2 linked regions of the Homo sapiens genome follow. The protein of the gene in region 1 interacts with the protein of each later gene in a pairwise test. Each region holds a gene or a part of one and is shown on either strand. Other genes may lie near its edges.

The links. Proteins that work in one complex are often made in the same cells at the same time.
Region 2: the proteins of ZAP70 (region 1) and ASB3 interact in a two-hybrid assay, tested with the Homo sapiens proteins (one large-scale study listed by BioGRID).

What each region holds. Positions count from the first base shown.
Region 1 is NC_000002.12:97,729,006-97,734,256, forward strand, and holds part of ZAP70 (tyrosine-protein kinase ZAP-70), read left to right. Parts: intron 1-3,877; coding exon 3,878-4,016; intron 4,017-4,119; coding exon 4,120-4,207; intron 4,208-4,291; coding exon 4,292-4,338; exon of another isoform or gene 4,339-4,538; coding exon 4,539-4,590; exon of another isoform or gene 4,591-5,251. UniProt on the Homo sapiens protein: Tyrosine kinase that plays an essential role in regulation of the adaptive immune response. Regulates motility, adhesion and cytokine expression of mature T-cells, as well as thymocyte development.
Region 2 is NC_000002.12:53,713,168-53,718,418, forward strand, and holds part of ASB3 (ankyrin repeat and SOCS box protein 3), read right to left. Parts: intron 3,577-5,251; coding exon 3,399-3,576; intron 1,415-3,398; coding exon 1,217-1,414; intron 1-1,216. Other genes in the region: GPR75-ASB3 protein, read right to left, coding at 1,217-1,414, 3,399-3,576. UniProt on the Homo sapiens protein: Probable substrate-recognition component of a SCF-like ECS (Elongin-Cullin-SOCS-box protein) E3 ubiquitin-protein ligase complex which mediates the ubiquitination and subsequent proteasomal degradation of target proteins. Recognizes TNFRSF1B.

The DNA of each region.
Region 1 (5,251 bases):
GCCTCCCAAATTGCTGGGATCACAGGCGTGAGCCACCGCGCCTGGCCTGTCAAGTGTTTCTTATCCTCTCCTGGACTGCAGACCTCTTTGGAATCCTACTGACTGCTCCTTTCACAATCCCCCAAAGCATATTCACCTCAAAGACTTTGCAGACAGTTATATGAGATCATGGTTGGTCCTGAACCTCGTCCTTAGAACCCTTTTCAGGTCAAGAAGTTATGATTTAGACCAGTTACCTCATTTTATACATAAGGAAACCGAGGCACAGCGAGGATAAGCAGTTTATTCAGGGTTTCACAGATAATCTGTGACAGAGCTGGGTGTTAGTCCTAGGTAGCAATTAACTGTAGAGTCAGAAATGCATTTGAATCCTGGCTCCCCCTCCTATCTCTTACCAACTCTGCAATTTAGGCAAGATACATAATCTTGTGCCTCAGTTTCCTCATCTGCAAAATGGAGATAACAATAGTGCCTACTTTGTGGGGAGTGCTGTGATTATAGGACAAATATGTGAGGAATTTAGAACCAATATCTTAATAAATAAATTGTAGCCCTTTTGTTTTGTTTTGTTTACAATCGTGAACCAGAGACAGATGTAGCTCTTATAGGTTCTATGTATTATTTTAAGAGCAGAGATACAAGTTGATTTTTTAGCCTGTACTTCTGGCTTAAGTGCAAGTTCCAACTGCAAGAACAAAGAACTGCCACTACCTAGCATTTTTTTTTTTTTTTGTAAATCAAGTAGAACTTATGGTACTGAAATATATGTGGTGATAACACCAATGTCTTAGCTTTTGTGGTTATTATCTGGGAATTTGCAGCTGCTCTTTATGAACTCACACATCTCTTTCCAAAGAGTGTATTGGTTAGCTTTTGCTGTGTAACAATGTGCTGTATTCATACCCTGAAATGTAGTGGCTTAAAACAATGGTCATTTACAGCCAAGTGTGATGGCTCACACCTGTAATCCCAGCACTTTGGGAAGCTGAGGCAGGCGGATCGTCTAATGTCGGGAGTTTGAGACCAGCCTGGCCAACATGGTGAAACCCTGTCTCTACTAAAAATACAAAAATTAGCTGGGCATGATGGTGGGTGCCTGTAATCCCAGCTACTTGGGAGGCTGAGGCAAGAGAATCACTTGAACCCAGGAGGTGGAGGTTGCAGTGAGCCAAGGTTGCACCATTGTACTCCAGCCTGGGCAACAAGAGCAAAACTCTGTCCCAAACAAACAAACAAACACCGATCATTTATTCACTCTTGTTTTGCTTGGCAATTTGGCTGGTTGCTTGGTAATTTGGGCTGAGTTCAGCTGGGTGCCTCTTCTGCTGGGTTTTTGAGCTTACTCATGTGGCCACAGCCAGCTGGAAGATTGGCTGGAGCTGGATGGTCTCTGGGATGGCCTCACTCACATGAATGGCTATTGGCCACTCATGTAGGGTGCCTTGGTTCTCCTCCATGGGCCTTCTCTAGCAGGCTAGCTTGGACTCATTCCCATGGTATTTGGAGAGCTGCCAGGAAAAGCAAGAGAGGGCAGGCCAACCTCAATGTTCAACCATTTTTCAAGCCTCTGCTTGTGTCATGTTTGCTAATGTCCTGTTAGCAAGGCACATGGTCAAGCCCTGATTCAGAAGACAGAGGAGGAGGCCCCACCTATTGATGGGAAGAGCTCCCTAATATTGTGGCTGTTTTCCCCCAGTATTCCACATGGAAGTTTAAATAAACAAATAAGGAGGAAATTATTAGTTCTAGAAGAAAGAATGAAAGAGACAGACAGACTTGGTGGCTCACGCCTGTAATCCCAGCACTTTGGGAGGCCGAGGCAGGTGGATCACGAGGTCAGAAGATTGAGACCATCCTATCTAACACAGTGAAACCCCATCTCTACTAAAAATACAAAAAATTAGCTGGGCGTGGTGGTGTGCACCTGCAGTCCCAGCTACTTGGGAGGCTGAGGCAGGAGAATGGCATGGACCCAGGAGGCAGAGCTTGCAGTGAGCCGAGATCACGCCACTGCACTCCAGCCCGGGCTGTGGAGCGAGACTCGGTCTCAAAAAAAAAAAAAAAAAAAAAGAGACAGAGGAGGGGAGATGGGAGGTTTGCTGTTTGCTGGTGAGTGGCTTGGCATGGAGTCTCTGTTGTCAGTTTAAAACTTCAGGTTGTGACCCTTAGGAGGTGTTTTCACTTCTCACAGTCCCTGGAGACCATCACCTCCAGGCCAGCCTGCCACCTGCCTCTGACTTCCACAGCTCTGAGACCCCCAGGGCCAATAGCCCTCCCTCCTCACTGGAAAGCTGCACTTAACAGGAGCTTGTGCCAGTGACTCAAAATAGAAATGTTTTGTGGGAGATGTTGACTGGTGTCACTGCGGGGTTTCACGTGACGGCGCTGCATCTGCTGTCCCAGCCTACTGTCTCTGTGGGATGTTTGTTTCCTAATTTGTGGTGGGTTCTCTTCCTTGCCCTTTTGTGTGCCCTCATTGCCCCCGCCCTGATTTCCCATCTCTCCATGTTATCTCCAGACTGTTGTGGGCTAGCCTGGGAACTGCCCCACCCTTCACTGCACTGTACTTCGGGGAACGTGCTGTCCAGGAATGGAGAGGATGGTCACAGCTGCACCTCTCTCCCTCACTCAGGGGACATTTCCTAAGGAAGGGCCTTATTGCAAGGTGGGCCCATGGCTGCCTTGCTCACTGCCATATCCCTGCGCTGAGAACAGTGCCTGGCCTGTCAGTAAAGACTTGTCCAGTGAATGAACATCCACAGGCAGGGCCAGGCCTGGTCTGAGAATTTGCACCTTGGAGGGTGCAGCTCGCAGGCCATCACAAGGGCTCTTCTGTAGTGCAGTGCAATCCCTGAGATCAGGAGTCGGCTGCTTCCGGCCTCCACAGCTTCCACGGGGCCAGCTGCCCTCCCTCCTCACTGTAAAGCTACACTTGACCCTGCAATAGAGGCTTGTGCCAGTGACCCCAGACAAAACTGTTGTGTGGGGGATGCTGACTGGTGTCACTGTGGGGCTTCATGCGAGGGTGCCGGTGTCTGACACTAAGTTGGTCTGTGTTGAGGGGGGATGTGTGTACTCAGGGCTGGAGCGGATGGGGGGACAGTTTCTTACCCCACAAATGCACCACCTTTGAGGGGCTCAATTCCCATCATAGACATGGAAGATTTATATATTTATATTGACAAAATTCCAGCAGAAGGCAATCGAGGGTCTCATTCTAGGAAAGGTCCATCTATTATGGAACTGGTCAGTCTCGTGATGAGAAAGTGACTTGTTTTGATTTGCACAGGGGTGCCCTGTAAGCTTGTCATGGAGCTGCGCCTACCTGTGTGGGTCTGTGTGGAAAAGGCTTTCTCTCCCCAGGAGAATGGTGCTAGGTCTACCTGTTGAAGGCTCTGGGTCTGTTGTAGAAGGCCAAGTGCCCCCCATGGTTGGCTGACTGTATGGCCGAGTGTACCCCCAATGAGTGCCTGTGGATGACTATCTCTCTGTGGATGGCAAGTGTCTGGCCGTGGATGGCCAACTGTTCAGCCATGGGGGACCAGGTGTTCCCCAGTGGATGGGTGTCCCCTCCTCCGTGGCTGGGTGTCCACCGTGGGGGGTCAGGTATTCCCCGTGAATGGCCATCTGTTGGCTCTTGGAGAACAGTGCATTTTCCTGGGAACACAGCCATGGCCCCTCCACCGCCCTCTGCCACTTGGCCCATCATCAGCAGATCTGGAGGTGATGGGGGCCTGGCCTGGCTTCCCCAGTCCCTGCAGCTTCTCTGCAAGGCTCTGAGGTGTGGAGCCCATAGGGTGTGTTGCGGGGGAACCGGGGCACAGCAGGAGGCCCCCAGGTGGCTCTAGGGGTTACATCCCCTCCCTTCCCCTGCCAGGCTGAGGCCGCGGAAGGAGCAGGGCACATACGCCCTGTCCCTCATCTATGGGAAGACGGTGTACCACTACCTCATCAGCCAAGACAAGGCGGGCAAGTACTGCATTCCCGAGGGCACCAAGTTTGACACGCTCTGGCAGGTAGGCTGCCCGTGCAACTTGTTCTGGGAGATGCCGTGCTCAGATGGGGTGCCGGGCTCTGGGGAGGAGAGGAGCCTCTCTGCTAGCTGCCTGCTCCCTGCAGCTGGTGGAGTATCTGAAGCTGAAGGCGGACGGGCTCATCTACTGCCTGAAGGAGGCCTGCCCCAACAGCAGTGCCAGCAACGCCTCAGGTGACGGCAGCAGGCGGGCGGGCGGTGGGCGGGGGCGGCAGGAGACCTGGCCCCCAGCCCTCACTGTCCCTTCTGCTCCCCCAGGGGCTGCTGCTCCCACACTCCCAGCCCACCCATCCACGTTGACTCATGTGAGTTGGGGGCACCTGGAGTGTGGCCTTGGGGATGGAGCTGGGGAGTGGCTGTGGGGGAGGCTGGGATGGAGGCTGGGGTGCCTGTGGAGCGGAAGAAGCTCTCTCTCCACTGTCTCTGGGAGTCCTCAGTGGATATAGGTCTCATGAGAGGGGCTGGACGTCCCCAGCTCAGGCCTTGCTGACCCTGTGGCCTTTAGCCTCAGAGACGAATCGACACCCTCAACTCAGATGGATACACCCCTGAGCCAGGTGAGCGGGCAGAGGTGGGGACGCGGGTTGGGGCTCATGCTGAGCCGAGATCAGGGTCGCTGTCAGGGCTGTGGGGTTTCACGGGGGGCGCTGTGGGCCGGGCCAGGCTGTGGCAGTTGGCTTGGTTAACACCTGTGCACACATGTGCCCACACCCATCACACCTGCCTGTGCACATGTACGTCCCAGTGTGTACTGACGTGCAGGGAGCACACTTGGCCTTGCCTGAGGCTCCCCAGACACACGTTTGTTGAGTACCTACTATGTGTCAGTCACGTTCCGAGGTCACTGTGTGTATGAGCCACCGAACCCTCCTGACATGCCTTATGAAGTGGCTATGGTGATTAACCTCACTTTACAGATGAGAGAGGGAGGGGTCTGTCTATGGGGATGTGAGGCAGTGGTAGAGGCGGGATGTGAACCCACGATGGGCCCCAGAGCTCACATTCCTAAAATGGTCTGCTGCGGGTGCTCCTGTTTCTCATGGGTGGGCCCAGACCTGAACATGTGTATGCACAGAGAAGACACATAGTTACATGTGCACCTAGAGGCTCGCTTTTGGAGGCCTCGTAAATGTGGCTGTGTGCTGCATACGCAGACAGGGACGGGCCCGGCCATAGGCGTACACGTACGAATGCACACACATGCACACCCCAGCTGGC
Region 2 (5,251 bases), about 44 Mb from region 1:
TAAAACGTGTAAGCTTAAACTTGAAACAAATTATAGTGAACTACTAATTTTACATGGCAAATGTTAAGAGATAGTAAAGGCTGAAAAGCTTAGTAAATAATTTCTTGATAACTACTCAAATTAAATAGAGATTCATAATAGTGAATTCAAGAAGGCCAATACAATTTGAGGTATGCCTGCAACCTCTTCTGTGTCATTAAACACAATAGCATCTATCTTCATAACTTATTCCATTATTGGATGACCAGATATTACTCAATATGGCTGTTCTTACACACAGCTTTATTCTTAGTGTTTTAAAACTGTAAGAGTGTTATAGACAAAGTTACTGGCCAGACACTAACAAGGCAGCAGTAATTCTTCACTTAGTCTATTTCACAGAATTATGACAGATTAGAAAAATAATTAATTTGGGGGCGTTTAAAAACTTAATTATTTAGACTCACATCCAAAAATAATATAAAGCCAGGCATCGTGGCTCATGCCTGACATCCCAGCATTTTGGGAGGCCGAGGCAAGGGAACTGCTTGAGCCCAGGAGTTCAAGACCAGCCTGGGCAACATGGAGAAACCCCATCTCTACTAAAAATAAAAACATTAGCTGGGAGTGGTGGTGTACACCTGTAGACCCAGCTACTCTGGAGGCTGAGGTGGGAGGATCACCTGAGCCTGGGATGCAGAAGTTGCAATGAGTCAAGATGGTGCCACTGCACTCCAGCCCGGGCCACAGAGTGAGACCCTGTCTCAAAAAAAAAAAATTTTTTTTAATGCTATCCACCAAATACATTAAAAACACAATAATATCTATAAAACTAAAGTTTAATTTTTAGGCTTATATCTTATAAATTTGAAACGGTAAATGACCTGAAGCAGTCACTGCCTTACTTGATAAAGCCCCATTTTTAATTCTTGAATTGTTTTGAAGACCAAAAATATCAGCAAATTTCTGCGTCTACTTAAATTGTACGTATTCCCTAAGATTGCTACACTAAAAATATAATCCAGATCCAAAGAAGGAAGGAAAACAATGTGATATTATCACCTCATTTCTGCTTCAGCTTGACTGAAACATCATAGTTTTTTTCCTATTTGTGTTCCAAGATAGCAATTTAGCACTAACAGAGATACTAAGTTTCATCGTGAAAGAAAGTCACTTCAAAACACATCTCCATACAGCAAAAAAGAATAAAAAATAAAAACATAGCAAATATACATACTCCTTTTGGAAAGCCATGCACACAGGAGAACTGAATCCAAAAACAAGGCACGCCTGGGCGTCTGGGCTGTAGCCATTCCGGAGTAATATTTCTAGGCAATCTTCATGTCCCCCAAACACTGCTGAGTAAACAGGGCTTACTTTGTTTAGCCCAGTGTCACAGGCCCGGTTAGTAAGTGGTATTAACAAGTCCAAGATTCTATAAATACACAAATTCAGGAGAATTTAGTGTTTGTATATGTGCATAAATGTAGGCAACATTTCTATAGCACAATTTTTTTCAGAATTACCAACTGATTCATTTAAAGAAATATTTCTGTCTAGGGTGTACCTTCTACCAACAACATTAAACTATTACATGCTATATATTTACTCCAGAATGTTACACTTATTATTGCTTAATAAAAAGGTCTTTAAATACATTTGAAACAAAATTAATGTTCCTATATGTAAACAGAAAAGGTGCTCTTTTAATTTTATTACCTTACTAGCACCACCTTAACCCCCAAAATTCAAATTTTATGTTAGATATTTTAGGGTTTAATAAATTATTTAAAACATCATTCTACTAAGTATAAACTGGCATCAAGAAAATGCACTATTTTCCTTCTTAAAGTACCAACTAGTTTTTCTTTTCCAATTAGTAAAAATTTTTAAAGATGATAACTGGCATGAAATTAAGACTAATGTTTTCATCAGGAAGAAATTATAATTTGTGCTAAAATATTCTATTATCTGAAAAAAAAGTGAGCTCATTAAATATGGAGGCAGATTTATAAAGAAGCTGGCTCCTAGGTAGAGAAAGTTCTAAGAAAATAATTAAAACAAAAGTTCTTAGGTTATTTGTAAACTTACCTCTAGCAGTCAACTGGAAAGAAAAAAGGACTATTCTACCCTTCTAAAATTAAAAATAAAACTGTATAGTTAAAGCCAGGAAATTCCTTCTTTCTGGGAAAAGACAGACAGGGCTACTCTGAAGTATTTTCATAGTATTACATTTCTCTTTGTGACTTTTCCTCATGTAATGTATGTCTAAGATAACATTTAAGTAGAACTTACACTCACAAAAGGGGTTACCTTTGAAGTAGGCTATAAAGAAAATCATCAGTGACAATGAGAATTCTCAAAATTGAGAACAAATGCCCAGGAGAGTTTTGGTACCATTTAAAGTTCAGAGTACAATATCTAACACTTATGTTTAAATAAATGATCAAGAATTGGGGAAAATATCAAATTTTTAAATCTAAGTATTTTGTTAAAATAGTCTAATGTCTCTTAACTTTAATAAATGTGTTTAATTTTTTTAAGTAGGTGGGAAAAATTATACTCTCCCACAAGACATAAACATGCTTACAAATATCATTAATGAAATAGTAAAGTACTGTGTCACCTAGTGGCATAATGACCAAATTGCAGAATCTGTTTTCCTACTATGTAAACAAACTAAATTAAGTAATGAATATTTTACTATTACTTTTTAAATTAAATAATACTAATAGCAGCTATAAAAAGTGCTATTATAGAATTATGGCTCTAAAGATTCTAAACATGTATTTCTAAAAATTATTGACTGCCAATTTATGATAGGTAGCCATATTCTCACATATATTTCTAAAAATCATTGACTGCCAATTTATGATAGGTAGCCATATTCTCACAGGTATAACCAAGTTACTAGCTTCTAAGATTCCTGGAACCCCCATTTACTCTCTCTCCAATTTGAGGTTAGATCAAGAAAAGTTCAGTCAAAGGGTTTAAGACAGGGAGGACTACTTAGCACACACTCCAACAGGCATCACAAACTCAAAAGCTTTCTGGGGTCAGAGAGGTAACATGGATGGCCTCATCAGATTGATGCTTAAAGATGCCTGGGATAAAACTAGGGAGGAGGAGGCGGCGGATACAGCCATAACTAGAGAAATCAATGGGAAGAGTCAACACCCCGAGAAAGTCCCTGAGCCTACCCAGTCTGTAGCAATTCTGCCTCACAATATGAAAGTGCAGGAATAGTAGGAGCAAAAGACAGCATGAAGGACAGATTAGGGGTAGATCTGTTCACCCAGCAGATTGGTAGGGAAGAGAATATCAAAGACTTTGCCTAGAGGTGAAGGGTCTAGCCCAGATTTATTCTTTATTAGCTTTTGATTAAGAGACCATGTTTATTTTCTGTTTTTAACACTTACTTTGTATGGCCCATTTGTGCAGCTGCATGAATAGGTAACTGCCAACTGTCCTCATTACAGTAAAGATCAGGATCTGCCCCACTGGAGAGCAAAAGCTCCACACATTTTGTGTGTCCCTCTTGAGCAGCAATGAACAAGGGTGTAGCTTTGTCCAAGGCTTGACAATTGACATTTGCACCTAAGGGTACAAAATAAAACATTTAACAGATAACCCTAATACTTAAAAAAATCAACACAAATTTCAAAGGAACTACCATAAAAGGGTTTCGTAGCACGGTAAGCTTTTCCCTCTTCACTGAATGTTGGATGTTGTTATATAAACATATTTACTTTGCTAACTTCTTGGTAATCATTTAAATTGTCTTCGCTAAACTGACAGGGTAGCTCATGCCTGGAATCCCAGCAATTTAGGAAGCTGTGGCCAGAGGATTGCTTGAGGCCACGTGTTTGAGACCAGCCTGGGCAACATAGTGAGACCCTGTCTCTATCAAAAATAAAAAGGTCTTGCCTCTACGTCAGCAAGAAAACAAGTGATTCATATCTTAGAATTCATTTTTAAGCTAAAACAAAAATCCTATTCAATGAAGGATACATTTCATTCCAATCCCTCCTCCAACAAGCATTCTGGGGCCCAATAAGTAAACATTTAAAAAGAAAAATGCAAACTATCAAACATGGATAATATTTCTGATAACTGCTGAAAAAGATAAAATCCAAATTATGCCACTAATTGATTCAGGCTAAGATTTATGAAAAATTATCAGTAGATATGACATATATGGGAGCCACGCCTTAAAACTAATATTGACTATACTCTCTATTACATCTCTTTCTTCATAACCACTGCATGATAAATAATGCCTACAATCAGAGAAAAAGGGTCTCTTTCAACAGGTTTCTGAGTTGATATTTAAAATCATAAATGTGAAAGGGAAAAACAATAATATTATAGTGAAAGAAAGAAAAAGAAAAAAATCCCACCTGCATGAAAATAATTACAAAAATTAGAAGTGTGAACATCTCCAGATGAAAAGGAACTACCCCAAGAATTTTGGATTTGTGAAAAATCTAAATATAGTGACACCACTGAAGGATCACAGTCGTGTTCCCGCAATGGTTCCTGACCCAAATGGAAACTCAGAAATGACAGATAAAGAATTCAAAGCAAGGATTGCAAGGAAGCTCAACAAGATCCAGACAAGGTTGAAAATAAACACAAAGAAACTTCTAAAGCAATTCAGGAAATGAAGGCATCTTAAGATAAACATCTTAAAAAGGAATCAATCAGAGCTTCTGGAATTGAAAAACTCACTTAAGGAATTTCAAAATATAACTGCAAGTTTTATTAATAGACTAGGCCAAGCAGAAGGAAGAATTTTGGAGCTTGAAGATCAGTCTTTCAAACTAACCCAGTCAGATAAAAATAAAAATAAAAAATTTTTAATGAAAAAGGCTTTGAGAAATATTTGATAATGTAAAGCAACCAAATCTATGAATTATTGGTATTCCTGAGAGAGAAGGAGAAAAAGTAAATGACCTGGAAAACATATTTGAGGACATAATTTAAGAAAATTTCCCTAATCTTGCCAGAGAGGAAGACATCCAGATAGAAGCAATACAGAGAACTCTCTGTGAACGTGAATATCACCATGGCATACAGTCACCAGACTGTTGAAGGTTAACACTAAAGAAAAAATCTTACAGGCAGCTAGAGAAAAACGTCAGATCACATACAAAAGGAACAGTGGACTTCTCAGCAGAAACCTTACAAGGCAAGAGAGATTGGGGGTCTATTTTCAGCATTCTTAAAGAGAGGACACTACAACCAAGAATTTCATATTCCACCAAACTAA